Regions from separate parts of the Homo sapiens genome. Here regions 2 and 3 are each linked to region 1. The links come from fine-mapping of genetic effects on gene expression. A gene starts in region 1. Each other region holds a variant in brackets. All regions are shown on one strand. Distances are from middle to middle.

Region 1 (9,913 bases):
AACCATGAGAGAGCAAGAGAGGAGAGGACACAGAAGGGAAAGAGCTGGGACGCTGTACAAGAAGACGGAGCAGAGTCAGAACCCAGGCAGGTCTCAGCGACCTGGAAACTCCTCCTCCTGTGCTTGGGCCAGTCACAATGGTTCTGACGGGGAGCCTGCTCCCACGGCCTGCAGCGGGTTTTTTCTAGAATAATTAGCCAGACTTTGGCCTGCAGACCTCCTAGAAAAGGGTCCACATGGACCCACTAGTGCTACACTTCAAGTCTCTGTGGTAGAGCAGAATGCAGAAAAGCATGAATCCAGTGTACTAGTTATATTGGTTTTTGGTGACTTATTCTCAGGCCAGCTTCCCTTTTAAGTTCCTGTTGAGACCCTCCAACCCTGAGAGAAGAAAGACAAAAGCCTCAGGCTAGCTGGAGGCACTTCTTATTCCATAAGAACTAGGAGATTGCTGTTGGTTTTGTACTTGTTTTAGTATATCCAGCAGGAACTGGGGATCCTGGCAAGAACTGTCATTCAATAAACACCTGGTAAATGAAACCGAGTTTTCTCCCTATTCCCAACGCTAAGAGCATGAGATTCTGCAGGACTTCAGACCTCCACACAGCTTGTCAGCTTGCCATCTGTTTTTGTCTCAGGCTACCTGCTTTCTCCTGCCAACGCAGTCTTCCTGAAACACCCAGATCGTCACAGTCCTGTCTGTCCAGTACCTGGCACAGACAAGCACCCAATCATGGCTCATTAGCCTTCTGTTCACCTCCCTCTGCACTGGCTGTTTCTTTCTTAGTTTTCAAGCCCCAAGTTTCACAGCCTACTCCGCTGGGCTTCTGTGTGCGATCGGCTTCATCCAATCATCAAATGAGCATTTTACTTAGTGCTTGTCATGAGAGAGGCACTGGCCCAGACCCTTCCACATATGGCATCTCCTTTAATCTCATAAAAACCCTGAGAATCAGGTCCACTCACCCCATCACATAGTTGTGGAAATAGACTGGGAGCCTGTGGGTAACTTGCCCAAGGGCCCAGCCTATCCAGCAGCACAGTCAGAATGGGAAACCCAGAACCCAGGTTTGAGTCTACCACCAGAGCACACAAAGTGCCTCCAGACAGAGGCCCCTGGAACAAGGCTTGGCCTGCCAGAAGTTCGGTGGGTCTCCAAACACACACTCACATTCCCAAACCACTCCAGACTCACCCAGGCCTAGAAAGCACACATCATCCTCAATAGACTGCCCACCCAGCAGGTTGTCTGGAACAATGTCCCACATTCTGGTGTTGGCCCAAGGTATGATTTTGGGTTTGAGACTCCTGCCTTATGTCTTCTGCCTGACTCAGCTGTGCTGAGTCATGCATTGATTTGCCAATGGATCCTTCTGCTCATTTATACCACTACCCCCTGGATTAAATACATACTCCCCTTAGTTTAATTATTAGCCATTTATATAATATAAGCTGAATGCTGACCAGGAACCAAGCACTATACCAAATATTTACACAAATTATCTCTTTTAATTGTCTTCATTCTCTATGGTAGTTTCAATCACTGGGCAGTCATTTTGTAGGTGAGGAAACGGAGGCTTAGTGAGGTTACGAAACTTGTTCAAGGTCACAAAGTATTAGAGCCAGGACTTGACCCAGGCAGCACATGCACCCTCGACCACCACACCATTAACACTCAGATCTACAGCTCCTTCCCAGCTGGTTCACTTATTACTGACCAATCTACACACACACACACACACACACACACACACACACACACACACACAGAGAGAGAGAGAGAGAGAGAGAGAGAGAGAGAGCTACCCTATCTGGTCCTAAAATGATTAAAGCCAAACCAAGAGTCCATTCATTCACCCTCCACCTAACTTCCAAGTGTCCCCACCCTTGCCAAACTTCCTGTGAGCCACTTTCTAATCACCGTGACCAAGAGAAGAGCAGGTCAAGACTGAAGGTGGCATGACACCCACTAGCCTGTCTTCCCACTGGGCACTGCCTCCTAATCTTGTGTTCTGCAGGCCCCAAAGCTCCTAGCAGAATTTCTGATCCCCAAGACTGGAATAAAATTGTTCAAAGGTTCCCAGGAAATTTCTTGAGGGCTAGCCACTCCTAGAGTTCAGCTTCCAGCATTTTAGCCACCTAACTTACTCTCTGTTCCCACGCAGAGGTCCTTAATTTGCCATCTGGGTGGCTTTGCTTATACCATTTGGAGCAGGAGGCACATAGCAAAAAGGATGAAAGCTTGGGACTTGGCATCAAACATGCCTGGCTTTACAGTGCTACAGTTATTCTTGTGTCAAACCAAAATAATCATATCAACTTCAGAATGTTGTAGTGGAGATAAATGAGGTAATGCATATTAAGTGCTCAGTATACAGTAAGTGCCCACTAATTGGTAGCTATTATCATTTTCTCACCCTCCCACCTGGAATATGCTTCCCAAGTCCACCATATGTTCCACTTCCACCATTACTTTAAGACTTAATGCAAATGGCAACTCACCCAATTCCTAGCCAGGTAAGTTCAGTTCAGTAGAACCAACACTGATGGGGCAACTTCTATACACAACACACCATGCCAGGTATTGGGGATACAAAAATAAATAAGACATGCCCCTGAATTTAAGTTCACAGCTTTAAGGGAGACAGAAAAGAAGCAGCTCATTTCAATGCTACATGGTAAGTGCAGTGACACAGGATGCTGTGGAACAGAAGGGGTGAGTTAACCATCACGGAGGGCCCTGGCGGCCAAGATGAGGAGTCTGAGCTGAATTCTGAAGGCAGTGAGAAGCTATTGAAGGAATTTAAGCAGAGGGGTCAAATGCACAGATCTATGCTTCATAAAAGCATCACTTTAGTAGCAATGTGGAAAAAGAACTTAGGAGAGTATGAATCATCCAATCAAGAAATGGTACCTTAACAAGACAGTGCAGGGGAGGGAGAGAGAAAGAAAGGATGGATTTCTAAATCATGAACACCAAAGGCCTTAAAATTGGGCATTGGGCCATGTCCAATCCTTCGATGTTTAGCTATTAAGGGAGAAGGAGGCAACACAGAGGTCATTGTATCCATCACATTTTAGAAATCAACTCTCTCTTAGGGCACTTATGACAATTTAACTTGCATTGTGGTTTTCTGTTGTTTGTTCATGTGATCAATCAACTAAAATTTACTGTCCACTTAAATACCAATTTAAATACTTAAATACCACTTAAATACTTGGGTGAAGGTTTCAGTGACAAATTGTTGATAAGAAGCATCAGCAAAGATCAAGGGAAAGATATAAGCTCTGGGGAATGGTGTGGTTCAGCTGGAAGGTGTGGCAGGAAGAAGAAGATGTGGGGAACTCGACTTGAGACTCAGGTGGGGTCAGACTGTATAGGGCTGAGGCTGAAGAGTTTGAGCCCTGAGTGGTGCACATGAGGAGACACTGAAGGTTTTAAACAGGGGAGAGAGGAACAGATGCCATCACAGGGGAGATCTCAGAATGTCTTATTTGTCTCTCCTTTGGGAATTCCTGGGCCTCACATTTTCTGTCTGGGTTTCTTGTTCATTGTTGATTCTCTCCCCTCTGATGGGGCTTGTCCCCCTGTTACAAGGCTGGGAAACCCTCCTGCCACTCTCTAGAAGCAGGAAAGAAACCCAAGGGATGGTGAAAACTTCATGTTGAGTGATCATGGATGGCAAAGACCCTGGGTGCACATAGTTTCTGGATAAACACTTTAGTATGGTTTATTATTATTATTATTTCTTAAGGGATCAGCTCTCCATTTCTGGGTAGAGCCACTTCAATTCCATATCTACAGAATGCATGTAACTAATGATCAGCAGGGAGAAGATAAAGAAAAAAGAAGAAAAAAAAATAGCAAACACCAGGGCATTCAGAAATCCTTTTGGCTTCAGAACATAAGAGTTTTTTCAGAAATAAATTTACCTTCTTACATTGGTTTGATTCAGAATTAAAATGAGTTCATATTATCTGAGTCCTCACTGTGACTGTCTGTGGAAGACCTCTCAGGATGGAGTTTGGAGTTGTGGGGGATCCCAGGATTCAAAATCCACCACAAATAATGCCAAAGGTTTTCTGTATATGAACAGTTAATAATGGCTATAATATTTTGGCTATAATATTTTCTCATTGAACTGGATGACCAAAATAGACTTTGGAGTTAATTACATCTAAAGGGTGCGCTGTAATGTTTGCATCCAGCCCACTGTCTGGGGATCCCCGTGCTCACAGGCCTCCATCACAGACCCTGGCACATCCTGAGCCTACCTGCTGGGCTGCCTCATGGAAGAGCTCCTGCACCTGGGACATCTGGGTCATTCTCCAGCAAGCAGGGATCCTGGTGATCTGGACAGGGAGACTGCTCTGGAAGGTAACAGCATCCTTGGTCAGGCTGGCTTCTCCTCTCCTCTCCCCTTGTTGTCCATCCTTTCTCTCTACTAGAATTGTTCAAACTACCAGGCGAGGCCCTGGCTGAGGAAGAAACCTTGTCTACCTCATCTGGAAACTTGGCCGGGTTACCTTTTTGGTACCCAGGTAGATCCCGCTGGTCCTTCAGTGCCCACCTGTGCTCAAACCTTGCTGCCCTAGAACCTCAGGCACTCCCAGCTCTCTCCTTCCCTGAGCTCCTTAAATACGTGAGGGTCAGAGCCAGCTGCCCTGCTGCCCAGCCCTTGAGGACACAGAGTCACACTCCTCTCCCACCCTCAAGTGCCTCGTGAACCCCTCTCTCCAGGAGGAGGGCATCATGACGCACTAGACCTGGCTGCAGGTGGTGAGTGAATGTAGCTGCGCCCTGAGCAGAGGGGAGAGGGGCCATGAGGAGGCTGTTTTGGGGCCCTTCTGGAGCAGGGCCGGAGAAGGGTAGGAGATTGAAGAGGGTGAGTGAGAAAAGGCTGGACAGGACTAGGGCAGCTCCTCAACCCACCCCCAGGCACCCTCCCCTTCGCGCTGGACCTGGCTTTCCTTGAGGGGAGGAGGGAGTTTGTCCCCTTGATCTGTGTGGCGCCTCTCCCCAGCACAGTGCTGCAAGGTAGACGGGGCTCAGGACCCTTTGGTAGAAGGAGGAAGGGGGAGGAAGAGAGCGAGGGGGAGGGTTAGAGCTGATCTTCCTGGGAAGAAGGCGACTAAGGACAGCAGCCAGCGCTGGCGAGGAGGGAAGGCGCCCGGAGCACTGAGTGGGGGGTTGGGAGAGGAGGGTTAGCCCAGTGGGAAGCTGGGAAGGCTGGGGGACTTGGTGGGCTGCAGTCCTGCCAAAAGCCGGGTGACAGGTAGGGAGCCAGAGCACCCGGGTGTCCCCGGCTGCCCGCGCCGCACAGAGCAAGGGACCCCAGGCCTCCGCTCGCCCTTCCCGCCGCCCCGCGGCCTCCGCAGGCCGCCCCGCAGGCCTCCGCCCACATTCACCTGGCTCCTCCGCGGAGCCCCTACCCTCACGTTTGGGCCACGCTGGGACCCGGGCCCCTTGGCACCCCACGCAGACGCGGACCCGCACCCCAAGTACTGGGGCCAGGCCCGTGTGCCGGCGCGCGGGTGACCGGCGGTAGGAGAGGATCCACCTGGGCGGGGAGGTGGGGGCAAAGGTGACCCCAGGCCTGGCTCCTAACTGCGGGCCGGGGAGAGGAACTGTCCCGAGACCACCCTCTCCACCCCCCACAGCCCTTCCGCCCTCACCTGCTCCTGGGACAGCCAGCTCCCAGCGCCCGGCCCGCCCGGTCCCCGCCCCGCCGCCACGTGGCTGCCCCGGCTCGGCTGCGCGGGTCCCAGCTGTCCCGTCCCGGCGGGGGCACCCCTGCCACGCCAGCACCGGGAGTCTCGGGCCCAGGTGGCGAGGAGGCGCTGCAGAGGCTTTCCCTCCGCAAGGGTCGGGCCTTCGCGCCTACCTGGACAAGAACATTCACCTGGGTAGGGGCAGGGCTGGGGGAAAACAGGGAGTAGGGGCCGCAAGCCCACAGGCTCGAAGTGACCAGCCACTGCCTCTCCCCCCTCGACAGTGCAACCAGCGGAAATGCCCAGCCCCGGGACCAGGGGACTAGGGACAGGAGCCTACCCTGTGCGGCTCTGAGGAGTGGCTGTGAGCACTGCACGCAGGACTGAGAAAGCCCGGGATAAGCCCGGAGTGCAGGGAAACCCGCAGCCCCCTGGGCAGATGTGGAGAAGAATCTGGACAAGCTGACCGAGACCCCGGTACCGGGGGTCTCCGTGTGTGCCTGGCTGCGTGATCAGGTGACCCCAGACTCTGAGGGCGTGGAACTGCTTTTGCCAGGAAAGCGCTCTGGGCATGCTGTGTAGGGGTGAATTACCCTTACCCCCTTCACCAAGACCCAGAACTGCCTTTCCTAGGGGTGAAGTAAGGTTTCCAGGGCCTCATGTTGCAGAAAAAAAGAACCCTAAATTAACATACAGAGAGATTAAATTATCTCCATTCCCAATCTGGCATATTTCCTAAACCTTAAATAATTTGAGAGGCTTCCATGTGGGCTTCTGAGAAACAGGAGGGCAGCTGGGAGAACTTCCCACGCCCACAAGCCTTTGTGTGAAAATCCCTAAAAATAGAGGTTGTTCTTCTAAAAACAAAAGGGAAGGCTAAGCCATGGGAACACTGACAGAACCTAACCTCTCGCTTCTGCTCCAGCAAAGACGCGTGTGAAGATATAGAACATCATATTTGCCATTTTTACCATTTTAACTGTACAGTTCAGTGGTATTAATCACACACAATATTGTCCAACCATCATCGCTATTTCCAAAACTTTCATCGTCCCCAATAGACACTCTGTACCCACTAAGTACTAACTCCCCGTTTCGTCTACCCTCAGAGGTAACTCCCCTCATCTACTTCCCGTCTCTATGGATTTACCTATTTTGTGTATTTCATGTAAGTAGAATCATACAATACTTGTCCTTTTGTGTCTGGCTTACTTCACTCAGCATAATGTCCTCAAGGTTCATCCATGTTGTAGCATGTGTCAGAATTTCATTCCCAGCAAAGAAATTTTTAATAACCCATCTCTGCCAGAAAAAAAGACCCCCCAAAAGTTACAGATTAACCATCTGTGAACAAAGGATGAATGGGCGGACAGGCTGACACAGTCACGTTACTGGAATCCATTATGCAGTCACCGCTTGGCATCTGCAGGAAATTAGTTCCAGGCCCCCTGACCAATACCAAAATGCGTAGATGCTTAAGTCCCTGATATAAAGTGATGTAGTATTTGCATTTAACCTACACACATCCTCCCACATACTTTAAGTCATCTCCAGATTACGTATAATACCTAATTCAAGGCCAGGCACAGTAGCTCACACCTGTAATTCCAGCACTTTGGAATTACAAAAATTCCAAATCTCCAGGCCAAGGTGAGAGGATCACGTGAGCCCAGGAATTCAAGACCAGCTTGGGCAACACGGTGAGAGCCTATTCTTTTCCCCACAAAAGAAATTTTAAAAATTAGCTGGGCATGGTGGTGCATGCCTGTAGTCCCACCTACTTGGGAGGCTGAGGTGGGAGGATTGCCTGAGCCCAGGAGGTTGAGGCTCTAGTGAGCCATGATCATACCACTACATTAAAGCCTGAGTGACAGAGTGAGATCCTGTCTTAAAAAAAAAACAAACAAACAATCAAACAAAAAAAAAAAACTATGTAAATTGTTGTTATACTGTATTGTTTAGGGAATAATGACAAGAAGAAAACTTTGTACATGCTCAGTACAGCTGCAACCATGCTTTTTTTTTTAACCAAATATTTTTGACCTGCCTTGGTCAAATCCACAGATATGAAGGGCTGACTGTATTTCCACAGATTCATCAGAATGATCAGCAGAGTCATTTTTCTTATTCACTTTTGGTGGGTCATACATGACACTGCTCTTTTTTTTTTTTTTTTGCCTCAAGCTGGTTTCCTGTTTGCTGTCACCTTCCGATGAGTCTCCCTCTAAGTGTCAACATGAATTTTGAAGAATCTGCATTCAATTCCATATCAGCCTGAGTTAAAAACTTTAGAATGGGGAATCCACCTCTCGCTTTATAACCACCTACTTCCTGTCACTCGTCATTTTCTAAATAAATGAGAAGTTCCCTTCAAAGCTTATAAGCATCTTCTAAACCCAGAAACAAATATAGTTGTTTATTTTCTTCATGTTAAGGCTACAGAAACCTGCCCTTTGCAAAGAAAAATATATATATATCCTGCTTAATGTAGATTTTTCTTATAACAATAACACTAACCTTAAAAAAACAAAAAAACAAAAACAAAAACAAAAAACCTCATGTTGAAAAATAGTATCCTGGCTGGGCGAGGTGGCTTGCACCTGTAATCCCAGAGTTTTGGGAGGCTGAGGCAGGTGGATCATCTGAGGTCAGGAGTTCGAGACCAGCCTGGCCAACATGGTGAAAAACTGTCTCTACTAAAAATACCAAATTTAGCCAGGTGTGATGGTAGGCACCTGTGATTCGGGAGGCTGAAACAGGAGAATTGCTTGAACCTGGGAGGTAGAGGTTGCAGTGAGCTGAGATCATGCCACTGCACTCCAGCCTGGGCGACAGAGTAAGACTCTGTCAAAAAAAAAAAAAAAAAAGAGAGAGAGAGAGATAGTATCCTGCATATCCTTTAAACATTGCCATTTTGAAGATACTGCCCTACATGAACTAGGAAAAGCATGTTTGTTGCATCATTACTTTGTAATACTTTAAACAATGAGAACAACCTAAATGTCCATCAACAGAAGACTGCTTAGATAAACGGTACAGCCATACTATGACAGCTGGCATTAGAAATAATTAGGTGTTTCTGGGCTGGGTGCAGTGGCTCACGCCTATAATCCTAGCACTTTGAGAGGCTGAGGCCGGCGGATCACCTGAGGTCAGGAGTTTGAGACCAGCCTGGCTAACATTTGTTTTTTTTTTTTTTTTTTTTTTGAGACAGAGCCTCGCCCTGTCGCTCTGGATGGAGTGCAATGGCATGATCTCGGCTCACTGCAACCTCTGCCTCCTGGGTTCCAACGATTCTCCTGCTTCAGCCTCCCGAATAGCTGGGATTACAGGCGCCTGCCACCATGTCCAGCTAATTTTTGTATTTTTAGTAGAGACGGGGTTTCACCATGTTGGCCAGGCTGGTCTCGAACTCCTGACTTCGTGATCCGCCCCCTCAACCTCCCAAAGTGCTGGGATTACAGGCATGAGCCACTGTGCCCAGCTGCCTGGCCAACATTTCTCATAAAAATACAAAAAATAAAAACCCCATTTCCTTTTTTTTTTTTTTTTTTTTTTTGAGACGGAATCTCACTCTGTTGCCAGGCTGGAGTACAGTGGCATGATCTTGGCTCACCACAACCTCTGCCTGCCAGGTTCAAGTGATTCTCCTGCCTCAGCCTCCCGAGTAGCTGGGATTACAAGCGCCAGCCACCACACCTGGCTAATTTTTGTATTTTTAGTAGAGACAGGGTTTCATCGTGTTGGCCAGGCTCGTCTCGAACTCCTGACTTCAGGTGATCCACCTGCCTCGTCCTAAAAACCTCATTTCTAATAAAAATACAAAACAAATTAGCTAGGTATCATGGCGTGTGCCTGTAACCCCAGCTACTTGGGAGGCTGAGGCACAAGAATTGCTTGAACCTGGGAGGCGGAAGTTGCAGTGGGCTGAGATGGTGCCACTGCACTCCAGCCTGGGTGGCAGAGTGAGACTCCATCTCAAAAAAAAAAAAAAAGAAGCAAAGAATTAAATGTTTCTATACATGCTATCATGGAACTCTGTTCATCACATAATAATGAATAAACACAGCAAGTCGAAGAATAATGTATAGTGTTGTTTTAAAAAGCAGTGTACACACACACACACACACACACACACACACACACACACACACACACATATATGTGGTTTGTATAGAAAAATATGGCCGGGCGCGGTGGC
Region 2 (9,913 bases), 92 kb before region 1:
ATAAAAAGTAAAAAGACGTCGCCGGGCGCAGTAGCTCATCCCTGTAATCCCAGCACTTTGGGAGACTGAGGCGGGTGGATCACCTGAGGTCAGGAGTTCGAGACCAGCCTGGCTAACATGGTGAAACCCCGTTTCTACTAAAAATACAAAAAATTAGCCAGGCATGGTGGCATGTGCCTGTAATCCCAGCTACTTGGGGGGCTGAAGCAGGAGAATCACTTGAACCTGGGAGGTGGAGGTTGCAGTGAGCTGAGATCATGCCATTGCACTCCAGCTTGGGCAACAAGAGCAAAACTCCATCTCAAGAAAAACAAACAAAAAAAAAAAGTAAAAAGACGCTTCTTAGAGAAACTGTGAGTTGAGAAGCCAAATAATTAGAAATAGATCAGAGAAGCTGCAGGAAACCCAGAAAGAAACAGATTAACTGACCAGCTGCAGATCAGTAGAAAGGAATCCAGGGCAGCCTGCAGCCATTGAAGATAATTGTTCTGGCAGAAAGCCCCCGAGAGAGAGGAGTGCATTTGGGAGCTGCTTGTGAACGAGCGCCAAGGAGAGTATGTCAGAGACCCACCCTGTCTCAGTGTCCAGAGGTGATGCGCGGGGCACACATACAGAAGAGGCCTTTTTTCAGGCCCAGGAAAGCTCAGAGATGCGCCGGCTCAGAACTGAAGCCACAAGTAAGACAGGAAGCTGAGGTGAACAGGTTATCAGGGTGGCCGGTTGTGTCAAGTGACCAAAGTAAAGAAACTCCGCCCTTGCACCTCCCAACCAGTGTAGGTTGCACCCTCCCATTCTCCAGGTACTGCCAGTAAAAACATCTGTGGCCCAATCTACTGCCTGAGCACGGTACCTGCTACTGCAGCGGAGTCAGTCCCAAGGAGCGACACCAGTGAGCAGGAAAGCAGAAAAGGTGTGGGAGGAAACTCCTGTGTGGTCCCCTTTAGGGGGTGGGTAGTGGGAACCAGAAGACCCAGGTGCTGCTATTTTGAAGTCATCAGGGTCGGTTCCATCACTGCTTACTGACTTGCTGCACCTGCCCATTTCTACTGAGAACCAAGAGCAGTAGCTTTGTTCCTTTATAGGCTTTACAATGGTCTCTTCCAGGGAATGGTCTCTTGTCCTCTCCGAAAACTAAATCTCCACATTTCATCCCAGTGTGTGCATAATTACATTCCCAAGTGTCATTGCTGGGCCTGATGAAGCAGGTGCCCCCAGCTGGCTAAGTGCTTGCCTACCTGCTCATTGTCGGGACAGGTGGCATTCCACAGGAGGCTCCCCCGGTTTGTGTGCCTATCATTAGGTGTGGGATTTCCACCCACAAAGGCTCTCATGTGCTGTCTCTGGGCTGTTTTTACCCTACTGCTGTTTGTGGCCTTCCTTAGATACAAAGCTGCCTGCCCTCCCATATACCTACTCTGATCATTCCCTTGAAAAACAGGGGAAGGAGAGGAGGGAGGAGAGCTGCGGCCCAGGGGATAATCAGATCAGAGTCCCTAAAGGGTGGAAGGACCTCTGTGAAGGAAAGCATGAGAAAGGAACTTTAGAAGCAGGCAGAGCTGGTCAGCCACTGGCAAGCTGCAGATGAGCAGGAAGCATTTCCCTCGGTCAAACCAGCCTCACCCAGTCTGCTCCCTGAGGCCTTCAATTCCTGTAATGCAGCCAAGCTTTTCATTCCACAACTAGAGAACAGGCCCTTGGGAGTGAAACTTCAGACGGAAGCATGCATGTAGATACAAATGAGGGCTATAGATTCCTGCCCTGAGAGCAAACCTTGCCACCTGGGGGTCTGTGACCTTGGGTACTGGAAAGTGGGTATCAGTTCTCTCACTAACTGAACTGTACTGCCTTCCAAAAAATCTGCTTTTATACTAAGGGCAAGACCCTTGAAAACAAATAATCACCTTTGCATGGGTGCCTACAAGCCTTAAAAAGAAACCTGTGCTAATGTGAAAACCAAGCTCAAACATATCTCTCAAAAGAAAATTCAGAGTTTCCTGCCCCAGGTTGCCCCAGGCACTGGCCCTCCATTAAGACCAGCAGGGCTGCTTTGCAAAGCCTCACACCAAGAGAAAATGGTAGTCTATCCTAAAATATAGGGGCTCATGCCTGTAATCCCAGCACTTTGGAAGGCTGAGGTGGGAGGATCACTCAAAGCCAGGAGTTTGAGACCAGCCTGAGCAACATGGCGAAACCCCGTCTCTACAAAAAATTGAAAAAAAAAAAAAAATAGCTGGGTGTGGTGGTGCATGTCTGTAGTCCTGGCTACTTGGGAGGCTGAGGTGGGAGAATCACCTGAGCCCTGGAAGTTGAGGCTGTAATGAGCCATGTTCACGTCACTGTACTCTAGCCTGGGTGACAGAGTGAGACCCTGTCTTTAAAAAGTTAAAATTAAAATATTAAAATTTAAAATACATAAAATATAAGCAGTGATACTCAGGAGTTCACAGAAAAACTCCCTAACCAACTACATTTCTCTGAAAAATGATGGGAATCTCAGGGTCTACTTTTTCTCCAAGAACTTAAAGGAGGGTGGGAGTTTTTGGGGATTTCCAGAAAAATATCTGGAAATCTTATTCATGTGGCTTCTAGGATGCCAAATAAATGTCCTTGATGTCAGATGACCTCCAGCCAATGCCAGGAATTCATTAATCTTCTCCTGGCAGGGTGCAGACTCTAGAAACAAAGATGTTGCAGCCAAATCAACCCAGAATGTCTGAGACTCTCAGGAAAGCCAAAGGGGTCAAGGACCTGAGGGACAAGGAGGGCCTCGGCCCTCACCCTGGCACTGGGCTTCCGCCCGCTCCCTCCACGTCTGCCTGTCCAGCCTCCTTCTCCACTTGCCACTTCTGAGCAGCACATTTGATTCATTGTGGAAGGTGAAGCTATTAGCAAAAGTGAGGCACTTGCTTAACTGGGAATTTGGGGTGAGCAGATTCTTCTGTTTCTGTCCTGATTTTTGACAGGAAGAGATGTCCCCATTATCTAGCCCCTCATATTTGTGAATCCCTCTGGGCATCATTATCTGTTTCTAGAAATCCCTAAGCAGGGCCTGTACCTTTTCCATCATGTCTCTTCCCCACCACAACCCAACACTTCAGTCCTGGGCTAGAGACTATATGAAGGCTGGGCGTGGTGGCTCACGCCTGTAATCTCAGCACTTTGGGAGGTCAAGGTGGGAGGATCACTTGAGGCCAGGAGTTTAAGACCAGCCTGGGCAACATGGTGAGACCTCATCTCTACCAAAAAATTAAAAAAAAAATTAGCCCAGCATGAGGGCATGCCCCTGTAGTCCCAGCTACCTGGCGGTCTGAGACAGGAGAATTGCTTGAGCCTGGAAGGTTGAGGCTACAGTGGGCTGAGATTGCAACACTGCACTCCAGCCTAGGCAACAGAGTGAGACCCTGTCTCAAAAAATAAATTAATTAAATTTTAAAAAGACTATATGGATTCCCAGACAGTACTGCAAGGGGAAGGTGGCCATTTGTTGGTGAGAACAAATAAATGACTCCGGCAGACTGAGCCCTTGGAGTAGCGCAGGCCTCACTCACCTTTTCCGCTATCAGGAAGTCATAGCGAAGGGCCTCTCGAGTGCAGATGGCGCCCAGGAGGAAGACGAAGATGATGTACAGAAACCACCTGCAAAACCCAAGAGCAGAACAGAGCTGCCCCCGACTCACCTCACCCAGCCCCATCCAATTCCCTCACTCAACCTTCTGTTTCCAAAGGGAACTTGTATCAGAATGAGAGAAAGGCCAGTCATGAAGCTTCCCCAGCTGGCTTGGGAGGACACTTTTTGTACTATTTCTCTTCTGGCATATTTCTTACCAAAAAAGGGGTACCATTGTTTTGTTTCTTTTTTTACTTTTAAATATATATAAAAATATGGAACACTTCACGAATTTGCATGTCATCCTTGCACATGGGCCATGCTAATCTCTGTATTGTTTTAATTTTAGTGTATGTACTGCTGAAGTGAGCAGTTTTTTTTCTCTTTCTTATATTAAAAAAGAAAAACATACAAAGGGCATTCCGAGTAGGGAAGTGGGAGGCCCAGTTGCCTCTAGGTTGCCAGGATTCAGGCCAGGGTTGCCCCGCAGCCTCACACCCCAGCCTCCTCCAGCAAAAGAACAAGCTGATGATCCTTCGGGCCTCTAAGTCCTGCTGGTCTGTTATCTTTGGATCAGATAATAAAGAGGGAAACTAAAGTCAAAAGGCAGAGAGCAGAGGCCTGGCTCTGTCCCCAAGATGCCCTGTAACCTTGAACAAGACCCAGGTTCCTGTGGTCTCCTCATTCCCATCTGGGTAATCAGAGGATGGGCCAAGGGTTCCTCCTGGAACCTCCCAGCTGGGGCCAGAAACAAGACAGGGTCCTCATTCAGAAGCCTCTTTCTTTTATTTCCTTCCCAACACTCAACTCTATCTCTGTTGTCTTCATTTTCTTCCCAATGTTATTGCACAAAATACCCTGATGCTGTACGCCAGGCTGATAGCAATGGTTTCACTGCAGTAAGCTAAGAACAAATTCAGTGTTTGTGAAACAGATACATTAATATTTTCTAAATACTGTGGTTAGAATAACACAGGCCCTTTTAACTTCTCAAGTCATTGTTTCTGGTCTCTGATCTCTTTGCCTCTTCACACCTACCCAATGAAGGGCAGAGAAGCTTCTTCCTGTGGTACAGAGAGAAACAATATTCTAAAAGGTCAGAAATAGACCCAAGGTTACCCAGCCTGCTTGTGTGGGTGGCACAGTGTGAACTAAAACCCCAGAGGCCTGACGGCCTGGGGGAGCTGGAGGGGAGGCTCACTGGGGGAAGAAGAAGAGCTGGGTGCTGAGCTTCCACTGTGTGCCTTCTCTCCCCGCCGCAATCTA[G/T]GAAGCACATACAGTGTCATTATCCCCATTTCACAAGAAAGGAAATGGAGGCTCAGAGAACTCAGTAAATTGTCCAGAGTCATGCAGCCAATCAGCGGCAGAGCTGAGATGCAGCCCCAATTCGTCTGATTGCAAAACTCTTCATCTTTATGCTCCCTCCAGTGATCCTGGAAACTCGGTGGTTAAAAAAATCCCCAAGTTCAAAATGGGGGTGGGGGAGGGACGGGGGCGGGAGGCCGAGGAAAGGAAAGAAAGGATTCGATCTGTGATCTGGGTCCCGACACTCCTCCTCGGCAGCATTCCCAGGCAGGGCGCATGAAAGGGCAGTGTCTGAACCCACCAGACGTGAATTTTCCAGCCCACCGAGTGTTAAAAGAAGGATCGGAATATGAAATAGATTGGTCACAGTCGGGGCACTCTCAGAACAAAAGGGGCAATCCCTCTTCTGCCTGGGGTTTTCTCTCCCACTCTCTAGCTCAGACTGATTGCCATGAGGGGAACTTACGAGATGCCAACAGCTGCCAGGGAGCCCAGGGGAATGCTGGCGGCAGGCTCCCTGAGGTCGCCCCCCATGTTGAAGCCGGCCATGACTCCTGAAAGACACCCAGATGGGGAATGGGGTGAGCAGCCTCCTCCACGCATCGCCTTCCCCAGGGCTGCCCCTTCCTCTCCTGCGGGACCCTCTCCTGGAAGCTGTCCCACCGCAAGCCCTCCAGCTGCAGCTCTGCGCATAGGCTGCTTTTCAATCTCCCCTGGCAACTAGGGAGGCATCCCTGTGGCGTGAAAGGCACCTTTGTGGGTTGGAGGAGGCTCAGGAGGAAAGCCCTCCCAGCTCCAAAAGCATCCTACCGCTCAGCGCAAAGCAACCAGGGGGGAGGAAAGCGGCTTGCAAGGCACACAGAGGTCCTGCGCTGCCTGCTGAGCTGGGACAATGCCCTGGAGAGGCTCAGCATTACAAAGGTCTGGCAGCCTCCTGCTCAGCAGCTTTCCCTGCCTCTGCTGCCTGCTGATTCCATGGGAGCTTCCTGTGTCCTCGGGGTCAGGTACCATCCTCCAAGCCCCTGAGCTACCAAAGGGCTTGAAATAAACTCCAAAAAAACCAATCCTGATGCCACTGACATGGAGTCACAAGCTCCTTTTCATCATCACCTCTCTTCTGCAAGAACACTAATGAAAATGAATTAATCCATGAGGGACCCACAGCACAGTGCTGCATGGTGAAGTGGGGATGTTGCCTCTTCCCATACAAACAAATATATGAAAGCAACAAGACAGGGTGTTCTGAACATCGGATGAGGATCCAGCCCACAAGTGCCATAACAACTCAGTGTGATGGGCTGCCCTGGTCAGGAAAGACCCGTGGAGGGGGTTGTATCTTGAATGTGGCCTTGAAAGAGGGATTTGAATGGGCTTAGGGATGGGAATGAATCTAACTCCATGATTTGTGAACACTTTCAAACTGCCTGGGCCTGTGTCAAGTGCTTTACATGCATTTTTTTATCCTGTTTAATTCTCATAACAACCTCATCAGAAAGGTAGAATTATTTCCTCATCTTATGGAAAAGTGTTCAAAGAGGTTAATTAAAACAGCCTAAGGTCACACATTTAATAAGCAGCAAAGCTAAGATTCAACCCTGGTCTGTCTGACTCTGAAAATTATGCTCTTAATGCCTCTGCTACAATGCTTCACAGAATCCAAGCGAAGTGCAGTGAAGTGACAGTTTGGAACCAGAAAGTGAAAGTAGGGGGGTGTATTTCAGAGAGAACCCTGAATGCTGGCCCGCGGATGGGGTGCATATACTGTCACCCAGCAACTCCACTATGAGGACTTTACCCATCGTAGGTAGTCAAGGCTATGAGGGAAGATTTAGCCCAGCGTGTTTATAAACGCTTGTTTAGAATAGTGGAAATTAGAAACAACCTAATGTCTAAAAATAGAGGGTTGGTTAAATAAGTGATGATATAGCTTTCAATAAATACTAGGTCTCAGAATATTGTAAGGGATATGTTGTGACATGGAAAGATGTTTAGAAGCTTTTGCTTAGTTTTAAGACGCATATTAGAAAACAGAACACATGGTATGATCCCATTATTATAAAAATATATAGAAAAAGGAACTGGAACATGTTTTAAAACATTAACAATGTTATTTCTGGGTGATAAAAGAACAGGTCATTTTTATTTGACTGTTTATATTTTCTCAATTTTCTACAATGATCATTTTGAAACGTGAAAACTTTTAAGGTTTTGTTGTTGTTGTTTTTGTTTTTGTTTTTAACGGCCTGTTAGGCACATTTTCTTTCCTCTCATTCCCTCCTCTCCAAGATCCTATTAAGAGCATAGTAAAGGGGAAAAGTAGATAAATTCCCATAAGCAAAGAGAAGTTGGGAGGAGGACCCTAAGTAGATGAAAGGTTCCCATGAATGTCTGGAACATAGAACATAGAAAATGGAGAATATAATACCGAGGAAAAGAGAAGGAAAGAAAGCCTCGGAATGCTTCTCTACAAGATCTCAATACACTGAGGAAAACCAGGGCTGGACGTTTGCACCCCAAATAAAGCCCTGCTCAAGAATCAACAGCACTCACAAACTTCTCATCAAGGTAGGGCCCCAGCAGGGAGACAGACCTAACCATGCGACAGCTGGGGAAATCCATGCCCACAACCAAGATCACCCAATGTGTGATGAAAACCAGCAACAAATAAACAAATACACGCATAAATAGAAACAGAACAACCCAGGCTGGAAGAAACATAAATCAGGATACAGAGAGAATTTGGAAGAAAACACTAATTAGTAGCTCCAGGTACATCCAAGAAGAATATTCTATCTATAAAACAAGGTGCTATGAAAAAAAATCCAAGAACAACAAAGAACTTTTGGAAATTAAAAATATGATCATTAAAATTAAAAATGCAACAGATTTAAGGGCCAGGTGTGGTGGTTCATGCCTGTAATCCCAGCGCTTTGGGAGGCCAAGGCAGAAGGATCACTTGAGGCTGGGTGTAATGGCTCACACCTTTAATCCCAGCATTTTGGGAGGCCGAGGCAGGCAGATCATCTGAGGTCAGGAGTTCGAGACCAGCCTGACTAACATGGTGAAACTCCATCTCTACTAAAAATGCAAAAAGTAGCCAGGTGTGGTGGTGCACACCTATAATCCCAGCTACTTGGGAGGCTGTGGTGGGAGGATCACTTGAGCCCAGGAGGTAGAAGTTGCAGTGAGCGGATATCATGCCACTCACTCCAGCCTGGGTGACAGAGATCCATCTCAGGAAAAAAAAAAAAAAAAAAAAGAAGGATCCCTTCAGGCCACAAGTTTGAGACCAGCTTGGACCACACAGCATCTCTTCATAAAATAAAAAAGTTATCCGGGCATGGTGGTACACACATCCCAGCTACTCAGGAGGCTAAGGCAGCTTTAATTGACTCACAGTTCCACATGGCTGAGGAGGCATCACAAATCATGGCAGAAGGGGAAGGAGAAGCAAAGTCACGTCTTGCATGGCAGCAGGCGAGAGAGAGCTTGTGTAGGGGAACTCCTATTTATAAAACCATCAGATCTCGTGAGACTTATTCACTGCCATGGGAACAGCACGGGAAAGAGACTCACCCTCATGATTCAATTCCCTCCCACCAGGTTCCTCCCACGACACATAGGAATTGTTACAATTCAAGGTGAGATTTGAGTGGGGACACAGAGCCAAACCATATCATGACATAGTGCTCTTTATTCCTCGCCATTGTTGTACCTCCTACAGTTTGTCAGGTCATTTTGTACACCTTCCTTCAGATCTTTTATACAGAAGTTAACCCATGAAGACCCCTGAGAACACCACAGCAATATATGCTTCTGTGGAGGAAAATGACTGATTCATCCTAATTGCTTCCTGCTTCCAAACACTTACTGTCTCCATAACAAACCCCCTTTACTCCTCCCCCAGGTTCTGTGTAGGCTGCCTGTTGTGCAGTACATTAGGATGCTGCTCAGTGGGAGGAGAAAGGACTGACCGTGACACAGGAATGAGCCAGGCCCAGATATGGCCAGAAACTTGGCTTTTGAGACAAAACAGAGAAGCCAGAAAGTAGATTATATCACAGACACAAAGAGCCAGAAACAAGGAGATGCAGGCAACTCGGACTGCAGACAAGAAGTCTCACGGGTGATTCCTGCTGGGGCAATGTGGGTGGTTCCCACAGCAAAGTGTACATTTGTTTGTGTTTGTTTGTTTGTTTGGATTTTTTTTTTGAGATGGAGTTTCCCTCTGTCGCCCAAGCTGGAGTGCAATAGTGTGATCTTGGCTCACTGCAACCTCCGCCTCCTGGGTTCAAGTGATTCTCCTGCCTCAGCCTCCCAAGTAGTTGGGATTATAGGCACCTTCCACCATGTCTGGCTAATTTTTGTATTTTTAGTAGAGATGGGGTTTCACCATGTTGGCCAGGCTGGTCTCGAACTCCTAACATCAGGTGATCTGACTGCCTCGGCCTCCAAAGTGCTGGGATTACAGGCATGAGCCACCGTGCCTGGCCTGCACATTTGTTATAGGGGCTCACACACTGTGGCTGTCATTTCCAAAATTCTACCTCTGTGTTACCACACAATTCTTGGGCAATGTTCCCTAGCTTCGGTGAATTATAAATGTCTCATTCACTAGTTAGAGCTAGAAAAATTATTTTGACTTAGTATTTTTTTCCTGTCTGTGTTAAGTGTCACAGAAATTCTCTAGTTTGCTTTCTTTTTGCATCCAGTGCAATTTTAAAACACTATCATTAAGGTTAGAGTTACATTTAGGGTTGGCGTAATAGAACAAATACTATTTCCCAGAGCATTAGTGCCCAGGTGTTTTACAAATATTACATTTTTTAAAAAGTTCCACAATTGAAAATAAGGTTGGGAAAACCTTAATTAGAGAGGTTTTCGGTGCTGGGCTATTGTAGTGCCTATAATATGCTAATATTCATTGTCCATCTCTAAGAAGAGAAATACAGCACACAGTTTCGCAAAACTTATTTGGCATTGAACCCTTTTTTTTTTTTT
Region 3 (9,913 bases), 60 kb before region 1:
CCACAGGCCCTGCCTACTAGTTGTGGCCTCCCTCGGAGTGCAGCGGCATGATCACGGCTCACTGCAGCCTCCACCTCCCATGGCTCAAGTGATCCTCCCACTTCAGCCTCCCGACTAGCTGGGACTACAGGCTGACGCCACCATGCCCAGCTAAGTTTGTACATTTTTTGTAGAGACAAGGTCTCTGTTTGTTGCCACAGGGAACACCTCTTCCCACCACAGGGAGGCCCTTCCTCCACGAGAAGCAGGGCGGGGAAGCTGCCCAGCAAGCCATCTGACCACCAGTCACCAATGTAGGCAGAAATCACTGTGTGCTCAGGGGTTTAGGTGGAAAGGACCGTTGTGCTCGGGAGTTTGCCGACGTCTGGAATCCTTGGGGTTTTACTCAAGGGCAAGGTGTGTGAGAATTTGCAGCAAAGCCGTCAAGAAACACAAAGTGCAGCGTCTCAATATCAAGCACGCCCAACTTCCAGGGAAGACTTCCGCAAAATCAAGGGCGCTGTTGTCCTAGTCCTAGGGTCAACACATGTTCTCATTTTCAAAACTTTCCTGGTCACTGGGACCCAAGGCCTGGGAGCAGCATTTAACCTGCGGTGCCACTAAATGAGAGCCGGCCTTGAGTGAGTGTGCCTTTAACCCGGGCTGCCCTGGGCTACTGCCATATCACCTGACCTTGCAGCTTCAGGCTGCACTCCGCTTCCCTTTGTGGGGCTGGCAGGGGCACTCTGCTCTCAGCCTTCTAGCTCTGAGAGGAGAAAACCAGAAGTGGCCCCTTCCTGTGCCTCTGTGTGTTCCTTTGCAAGCCGTTGTGTGCCTTTTCTGCAGGCGCTTATGGAGAGTGAGGTGTGTTTGTACCATCTCCCCGTCAGATTAGGAATCCTCAAGGTCAGAGACAAGTTCCCTCCTCCCTCCGGATCCCCTCCTCATCCGCAGGTGGCTGCAGTCACTGGGGTGCTGGATGAGTCCAGTGACCATACATCCTGCCCTACATCCTGCCTGGACAGCCTGGGAAGTGTTTTGATGACTGATCAACCCAGAGAGCACGAGGGGAGAGCAAGAGGAGGAGAAAGGATGCTGCTGCTCCTGACTGAACGTGATTGAGGTGCCCCAGGAAACTACCTTGCTATGCAAAGTATGGTCCCCAACCTGCGGCATTGGAACCTTCATTTTAACAAGATCCCCAGATCCTGAAGCACTGCCTTAGAGTATAACCCAGGGCCTCCAGGGACCTACTCTTCCAGGACAAGCAATGATAATGACAATGATTATTTATTGAGCACCTACTTTGTGCCAGGCATGACACTAGGCCTCTTATAAACATTATCTTATTTTATGCTTTGGCAACCTAGCGAGGCAGGCGTTATTACCTGCTTTTCAGAAACAAAGAGAGCAGGTCAGAGAGGTTAACTACCTTGACCAATTCTATGCAGCAAATTATAGCTGAGCTGGAGCTTGAACCTGGAGGTCTGACTCCAAAGCCATGTCTCTGACAACTGTAGTATATGTGATGCAATCTTTCACATTAGGCCAACAAGGACAGCCACTTGCCAACTCGCTATGGGGCCCAGAGATTTAAAGGCAAATGCAATCCCCAGGGAGATGTCTAGAGGCTGCCCCATTGCCTAGTGCTGGCCTGGGGTGTGGGCACCTATGTGTTGGGGTTAGGTCAACCCTGTGGCAGAGGCCTCAATATTTCTTCAAAACACGTCCCTGAAGATGAAGGTGCATGCCTCAGTCCCCAGGGAGCATGAAGATCCAGGCAAGAGGGACATGTAAGTTGGATTGCGAGCAGGCCTGGAAGCTCTAGCACTGGCCTTGTCTGGGCCCTGGAGTGAGGGTAGTGGGGAGAAGAGTGGGGTGGGGGGCCCACGTGGGTCCTTTGTATATTATTTAACTTTCAAATTTGCAATTTGGGGCATCATCTCCTGCCAGCCTCAGGAGGCGGCACTCTCCTGCCAGCTCCACCTCTGGGTTCACTCCCACCCCCAACCCTCGGCCAGCACTCACAGGCTGCTCGCACCACAGAGCCCACTCTCTGCATGCCCACTGTCAGCCCAGGACTTCCTGCCTTGTTCTCTGGGTCTGTAGCTGGCTGCCTTGCTCCCCACCCAAATGTGAGTGACTTGAGGGCACATATCCCACTTTGTGCTTTATACAGACCCACCATCCTGCCTCCTACCCCAGGAGGTACCCCCAAAATGGTGAAGCCAGAAGTGCCTTCAGGGACGCTTCTACAGTCACATGGAGAGTAATCTGCAAATTCCCCACAGCCAGGGGACACCTGCCACGTGCAGTGAGAGGAACACAAACCAGCAGCGGGGGGGCACAGGCAGGATGTGTCGGCCCACCCCTCAGCGGTCACCCATCGCTTCCTCGGAACTCCCAGCTGCTCAGGGCTGAGGCGGGCGAGGCTCAGAAGTGTGGAAGGGCCCTCCCCAGCTGGTGACTGCATGTGGCAGGCATCCATACCCGGAACGCCCAGCCAGGGAGTCGGGCCAGCCCATCCCTCCTGCTCACAGAGTCACAGAGTGGGAGCAGACTCGGGGGTCGAAGCTGGGCAGCGCTCGCTCGCACTTCCTTCTGCAAACTTGACCAGGTCCCACGGCCTCTTCAGCCCATGGCTCCTTTCTCTGATCCCCAAGCCAAAGCCAGCAAATGAGAATAATCCAGTAGAGACAGCTGGGTTTTGGGATCAGGGTAGGGGCTCAGAGCCAGGGGTCTGGGATTCTGGTCAGTCAGTTTTTCTTCATCAGAATCAATCTCAGAACAAGAGGGAGGCCTAAGGCATGCCTGCTGCTGGCCAGGGGTGATGGGGACCACTGCCCACAGAAAGCCTTCTAACAAGGGCTGGATCCAAACAATCAAGGAACAAGGATGCCTAAAGCATTAGTTTCTCATCTAGCCAGAGAAATATTAAATGTGCAACTCACATAATTTTACAAACAAGAACCACCAACATAAAATAAGTGGAATATTGAAAATATTCAACAGGTAGAACAAGTCAAAGAACATGCTTTGCTTCCTATTCAGGCCAGGAAGGGAGAGAAAGAGAAGAAATGGAAGGTGAGGAGGGATGGGGAGATGGCAAAGTGGGGGCAGAGGGGAAAAAGAGAGACAAAAGGATTGGGGAGAAAAAACAGAGAGAGAAAAGCATAAAGGAAGAAAGGATGAGGCACAAAGAAAAGAGGAGGGAGAGCAGGTGGATTTTGGGGAATGCTGGACAATTGGTCAGGCTTGGTCTGCAGAGGCTCAGAAATCCTTACCTGGACATGAGCCTTTGTTTATAATTCTTCACTGTTCTAACCCTGAAAAGTACCTCTGTTCTAATCCTTAATCTTTCCCCCTTCAGGTCAAGAATGCCTTTGAGAATCTGGCAGTAGTTCTGAACCCTGTCCTAGAAAAATACACTTATTTACATACAATTTTGCATGCAACTTCAGGGGCTCAAGGACTCTATGTTAAAAATACTTATTCTAGAAGCTCCACTCTGATTGGGAGACCCATAATGGCCAAAGCAAAAACACCTCAATTGCCAGATGAAACTAAAATGAGGGTGGGATGTGTTGTATTCAAGTCTTCACATTGAGCTTTAATCATACCATTGGCTTCAGTGACAGAATTTAGGGCCTAAGCACCTTCTCCTGGTTACTACCCCAACAGTCATATTGGAAGCAAGGCTGGTTACTCCAAGGGGTCCATTGTGTACATGGATGGTTATTTCGCAGTAAGGGGCCTGTCAAAGACAGGTAACAATGTGTGAGTCAAATTAACCCTTTACAGATCAATAGGATTAGTAAATCCCATATACGTAGTAGTTTCCAAATCTGAATGTACATAAGAATTTCCAGTATGCTTACCTAAAATGTAGATTACTAGTCCAAAATTTGAGAGTATGGATCAGACTGTTTTTCTAATGAGTTTCTAGATAATTCCGATACAGGAAATCTCCAAACCAAACGCTGAGACACACTGTTCTCAGAGAACATTGCAAGCCTGAGAGGCTGAGCTTCTGGTCCCACAGGTCAGCTGATTATCTACTCCTTGCAGTGCGATTCTTGTACACTAGGGGGTAGGACTGAGCACATATACAAGGGCACCGCAAGACGAGGTTTGGACTACTGCATCAAAAAGGCTACCTTTACAGGGGAAAATAGAATGAGCAATGCAGAACATGAAAGGTAGAGTGCCAGGAGAAACCTTCCAAGGGCCTCGAAGACAGTAGTTCCCAGAGCTGACTTAAAAATCATGATAAAAAACTACCTGGAGCACTTCTTACAATCCAGATTCCCGGGCCTCAGGCTATTAGGAAACGCGCTCACACACACACACCAAGTTTCCTCAGGGATTCTGATACACACGCAAGTATCACAACTTGTTTGTTTATGGCACTTCAAGCCCAAGGGTATTTTGATCACTATACCAGACCATTATCATAAAGACGCTTCGAAAAACTAAAGTGCCCTTATAATTCTAAAGCAAAAAACAGTGAACATTACCAGGGTTTTCTTCTTCTTTTCTCTTCCTCTTCCTCCCCCTCTTTCTTTTTCATTGAGGAGGCTAATTGGAGAAGGTGGGCCACGCTGGAATGCCCTGAATGGGTTCCAGATGGTGAAGTCATTGGCCTCTTGGCCCAACTGTTCCTCCCTTTTCCCTGGAGTGCTGTACAAATATTATCATTTTCTGGCTGTGCAGTGACATAAAAATGGTTGAGAGGCTCTAGGTCAGGTGTAAAAGAAACTCATGGAAAGGGAAGAACAGCTCGGTCCAAAAGAAATTGTGGAGATACTTTCCGATTCTCTGCAAGGTGGAGAATCCCAAATCAGATGCCAAGCTCAGCGTGGATTGGTTTGGGCTCATCATGTTGTCCAGTCCCCACTGGCTTTGGCATCTGATCTGGGATTGTGAGGGGGTGCGGTAGGTCTCAAGAGAAATGCTGAAGGGGCAGC[C/T]CTGCTTCCGGCTGCTTAGCAGAGTGGTGGCGACAGGGAAACCCAGGCACAGATTGCAGATCCTCCGCCCAGGGAGGATGACCACGATAACAAGACTGTCTTACGTTTATTTAGAATCTTCCTTTGCCAAGGCAATCGTATTTATAGTAGTTGCTCATTTTGAGTATAACTTTTTAAAAACATTTTGATTTTCTGAAATTTGGATGTCTTACAAGCAACATGAGGACTTAATGTAAGGCTTTTTTCCACCTGAAAATTTGGTGTGAATTAAAATTGATGGTGACTTGGAATTGAGGAAATACGTTTTATTACATCATTTAATCTCTAAATAATCTGTGAGGCAGATATTATTATTCTCTATTTTCTAGAGGAGGAAACTGACGCTTAGGTGATTTCCCCAAGGTCAAGGATTGAGAAAGTGGCAGAGCCAGGACTAAAATCCAGGTTCCAGTATTTCTTCCCTGATAATGTCTGAGCAGATTTGTTCATACACTAGGAATTTGGGATTGCAGAGTAATTGCTCCAGAACTGCTCCAAAAACTGGCTGCCACCCACAGTTACTGGGGCAGAGAAAGCAAGAAGTGACTTTCCTTTTGCTTCAAGTAGAAATTTGAGGGAAAAGAAATAGAAATGTATATAGGTTTGTATGGTGGCTGTTTGTTTGCTTTAGGCCATAACAGAAGTCCCTTGATTACTTCAGGAGCTTCAGAATGTACCATGCTCATTCCTCATACCACGATCACCTCTGGTACGTGTGAGTTTAAAATGGTGCTCATTCGGTCATTACAGATTTACTGTTTGAATTTGTTATTTTATTTACTTTAGAATGCTTTTCATTTTTAGCAATCAGGATTCTAGAGTGTCATATCTTTAAAAGTCTAGCATTTTTATTTCTGCCAGTTCAAGAGGATGCAGGAAGAAGTTTAACAGAAGAAACCGTCTTCAAAATAATAAAACCCCAAAATTATTCTCTACAATATCCAGTAAGTGCTGATTTTCTAGAAAACAGTTGGCAGGGGGAGAGAGAGAAGGAACCACCCCTCCCCCCAAACTCAAAGAAAAAATAACTACTTTGGACATATTATTTCTAATCCTTTAAAAAACACTCTTCCAGGAGGGTATTTCTTTCCATTAGACAGATGGACAAACTCAAAGGGTTTCGGTGACTTGCCCACAGCCACACGGCTAACAAGAAGCATGTGTTCTGATAGCATTAATCAGAAAAGCATATATTGCTGACATGGATTCCCTGTTTCATGAGGGCAGGGACCATCGCTATCCTATTCTCCGCTGTATCCCAAAGCCTACCTCCTGGCACCCCGTAGGCTTTGATGACTACCTATAGGGTGGGAGGATGGGAGGAAGAAAGAAAGGGAGGCGGAACAGGTGTGTGTGCAGCCAGGCGCTCCGTCCACCCTGCCACTCCTCTTCTTTGGAGACAGTGCTCTGACAATCTGTTCCATCAACTCCATTCTCCTGCAACTCTCATCACACTTTCACAAGCTGCGCAGATTACGTTTCCTAGGACTGTGTCCATCCATCTGCCTCACTGGATGCTGATCCACTCTGGTGTGTTTCCCAGTCAGTCACTCAGCAAAGTGCAACCGAGAGCCAACCATGTGCCCGGTACTTTCCAAGATGCCAGGATAAAACGGCAATAATATGGGATTCCTGTGCTTGAGGTTTTTACAGCCTGAAAAACAATGACCTCTGCATTTCCTACTCAGCACCGCGTGCCATCAACATCCAAGGTATGGGGATTTTCTGTAGCTGCCTATCAAACTCTCTCAGCTACCACCAGTGCTTCTTTCTGCTATATCTGATGCCTTGTTTTGTTACTTTCAGAAACACCAAAGGATGGCCGCAATTGAGGGACTCTTCTCAATAGCATGTTCTTGTGCTTCTTCATTTAGGACACATCTCCCATGCTGGGAAGTACAAGACAAATACGAGGAGTTGGGCAAGTGTCGCACTAAGTTCTGCCCCTGGCTGGGCAGCCCACTGACTTCTAAGAGATAATGAAATTTATGTATTTATTTATTTATTTATATATTTTTTGAGATGGAGTCTCACTGTCTCATCCAGGCTGGAGTGCAGTGGTGTGACCTTGGCTCACTGCAACCTCCACCTCCCAGGTTCAAGCGATTCTCCTGCCTCACCAGGAGAATCTTGTGATGCTGTAAGATGATAAAATGCCTATGTGACGAGACAATGTGGGGCGGATGACGCAGGCATCGTGACATAGCACTTGGCTATTATTGGCCTTGAGCTCTGGACTAGCTGGGGTTACAGGCGCGTGACACCACACCCAGCTAATTTTTGTATTTTTAGTAGAGACAGGGTTTTACCATGTTGGCCAGGCTGGTCTCGAACTCCTGACCTCAGGTGACCCACCCACCTTGGCCTCCCAAAGTGCTGGGACTGCAGGCATGAGTCACCATGCCCGGCCAGATGATGAATTTTAAAATCAAGTTTTATTATGGGGAAACTGAAGACCCACAGATATTGGGGTGCTGGCCTAGGGTCCCACAGACAGTGGTAGAGAGAATGCTGGCTTCAAGTCTCCCAGTGCAAAATACTTTAACTACCGTCCCCTTTCACTTCACTAGTCAGCAGCTTCGCAAACTGCATTTTCAATGCCATGCCCTACATGGGACTTATGTGTCCTGCTTGTTTTCTAATTCAGTCAGTGAAGAGCAGGCGGCCCCAGCAGCTGGAAACAATGTGAGCTTGATGGTTAAGGACATGGACCCTGAGGTCAGAAGCCAGGGCTCAAATTCTGGCTCCATTGCTTACCAGCTGGATAACTGCTGGGCAATCTAACCTCTCTGAACATCAGTTATCTCATCTTTATCATGGGGACAATAACACACAGGGACTCCATAGATAGGATATAGTGAGATGTATAATGCTTAGTATAGCACCTGGCACAAACAGAATGCTCAATAAACATTAGCTATTACAGTATCCCCCCTCCCTTATCCATTAGGGGTACATCCCATGACCCCCAGGGGATGCCTGAAACCAAGGATAGTACCTAACCCTATATACACCACGTTTTTTCCTATATATGCATACCTATGGTAAAGTTTAATTTATAAATTAGGCACAAGAAGATATCAACCACAATAATTAATAATAAAATAGAACAACTCTAACAATATACTATAATAAAAGTTATGTGAACGTCTCTCTCTCAAAATAGCTTACCATGCTGTATGCACCCTTCTTCTTGTGATGATGTAAGATGATAAAACGCCTACGTGACGAGAAGTGAGGCGGATGATGCAGGCATCGTGACATAGCACTTGGCTATTATTGGCCTCGAGCTCAAGCCCTCTGCTACTTGACAGTTGACCTGATAACCAAGCCAGGTACTAAGTGACTGATGGCAGGCGGTGTGTACGGTGTGGCCACACTGGACAAAGCAGGGTTCATGTCCCGGGTGAGACGGTGCAAGATTTCATCATGCTACTCAGAATGGCGGGCAATTTAAAACGTATGAACTGTTTGTTTCTGGTATTTTCCATTTAGTATTTTCGGACTGTGGTTGACTACGGGAAATGGAAACCATGGAAAGTGAAACCGTGGGTGGCGGGGTGGAAGCTACTGTGTTACTTCCCTTGCTCACCGCACCACCTTCAAATCTTAAATTCAAGAAATGTACAGCAATGTGAATTGACCCAGGACTTTTTTCTCATCTTAATAAATTATTCCACCTTACTTTCTTCTCTGCTTACAAGCAGAAATATACTCAGTGTTTCAAAAAGTATTAATTTCGGCGAGGCTGTTTGGTAAAGAATGTCTGATAAGGACACTGTGAGATTCTGATGCAGGAATTGATGTAGACATCTGACATAATTTTCTGATGGCTTATTAGAAATAAGTTTGAGCCGGGCGCGGTGGCTCACGCCTGTAATCCCAGCACTTTGGAAGGCTGAGGCGGGTGGATCACAAGGTCAGGAGATCGAGACCATCCTGGCTAACACGGTGAAACCCTGTCTCTACTAAAAATACAAAAAAGTAGCTGTAGTCCCAGCTACTCGGGAGGCTGAGACAGGAGGATGGCATGAACCTGGGAGGCGGAGCTTGCAGTGAGCCAAGATCACGCCACTGCACTCCAGCCTGGGTGACACAGCGAGACTCTGTCTCAAAAAAAAAAAAAAAAAAAGAAGGAAGTTTGAAAGGACTAAGAGCAGGGTAACAGTTGATGAACCACTTTTCTTAATCATTATTGCTTACTCTTGCCAAAAAAAAAAAAAAAACCCAACTTCGTAACTCCAATTATTTTTAATTTTTCAGAAAAGTGGCACATATTCTCAGAGAAGCAAGGGAAATTTCCCTTCACATCCCTAGACCGTATGCTCAGGGTGAAAGAGACTATTGTTTGGGTCACAGACTTGTGAGCCAGACGTGATTTTCACATGCAAATGGTGGCCACATACAGAGATAATCCAGGCCCCGGGCCAGGCAGAGACCCCAGCCGGCTGCCTCATCATGCTCTCACGGGGCATGTGGCTGAGCTGTAGTGCTGTGATGAGGGAGTGTGCCATCCAATGGGAGAGGCCATGTGTGGAAAAGGACTAAAAATACAAAGCACGCTAGAAACCGTGCAAATGAATTTAGTTCAGAGTGAGAAGGCATTTCGTCACTGAATCATGGATGGGGCTGGCCAAGGTTCACCAGAGGAAGTGAAGTGTTTGAGTTCATGTGCCAGACATGGTGCCGGCTGCTTCGTCTCCAGTATCTCAGGGCCAGGCCATCAGTGTGTGTGATCATGCATGGGTCTATGTGTGCACCCACTCATGTAGCCAGTGGCGCGAGAAAAGTAAATACTTATGGCAGGATCTTGGACCCTTTTAAATGTTTTCATCATTGTTTTGGATTATAAACTAACGAGACAAAAAATCAATCAAAGTTCTCATTGGTTAAAATAATTTTGTTTGTGTTTAACAAGTATGTGGATG

Which allele goes with the higher level. Alleles are on the strand shown, and positions count from the first base shown. SD is a standard deviation of normalised expression in the study named. Not every link is listed here.
For the expression in monocytes of the gene that starts at base 5,725 in region 1, allele T in region 2 goes with a lower level than allele G (moderate effect, 0.47 SD a copy in Quach 2016).

The links. PIP is the estimated chance that this variant, and not a neighbour inherited with it, causes the effect.
Region 2: its variant is fine-mapped to the expression of SLC12A8 in monocytes (Quach 2016, PIP 0.95).
Region 3: its variant is fine-mapped to the expression of SLC12A8 in tibial artery (GTEx, PIP 0.92).

Annotation. Positions count from the first base shown.
Region 1 is chr3:125,207,024-125,216,936 of GRCh38, forward strand. It overlaps SLC12A8 (solute carrier family 12 member 8), which reads right to left and starts at 5,725. Exons shown (of 14, transcript NM_024628.6): 1 at 5,677-5,725; 2 at 4,276-4,371. The coding sequence starts at 4,326. RefSeq lists an enhancer at 4,846-5,445 and silencers at 5,337-5,386, 5,397-5,616, 5,657-5,806.
Region 2 is chr3:125,115,221-125,125,133 of GRCh38, forward strand. It overlaps SLC12A8 (solute carrier family 12 member 8), which reads right to left. Exons shown (of 14, transcript NM_024628.6): 7 at 5,379-5,466; 8 at 3,549-3,636. It also overlaps the pseudogene RNU6-230P. Among named protein-coding and RNA genes, the nearest start is that of MIR5092, 31 kb to the right of the region's middle. RefSeq lists enhancers at 5,231-5,280, 5,283-5,789, 5,790-6,295, 6,501-6,720. The variant G/T (reference allele first, on the strand shown) is at 4,874.
Region 3 is chr3:125,146,653-125,156,565 of GRCh38, forward strand. The region is part of intron 5 of SLC12A8 (solute carrier family 12 member 8); the gene reads right to left. It overlaps MIR5092 (microRNA 5092), which reads right to left and starts at 4,900; the gene lies at 4,813-4,900. RefSeq lists enhancers at 519-588, 999-1,058, 2,389-2,578, 2,599-2,668, 7,491-7,992 and 1 more and a silencer at 8,228-8,277. The variant C/T (reference allele first, on the strand shown) is at 4,947.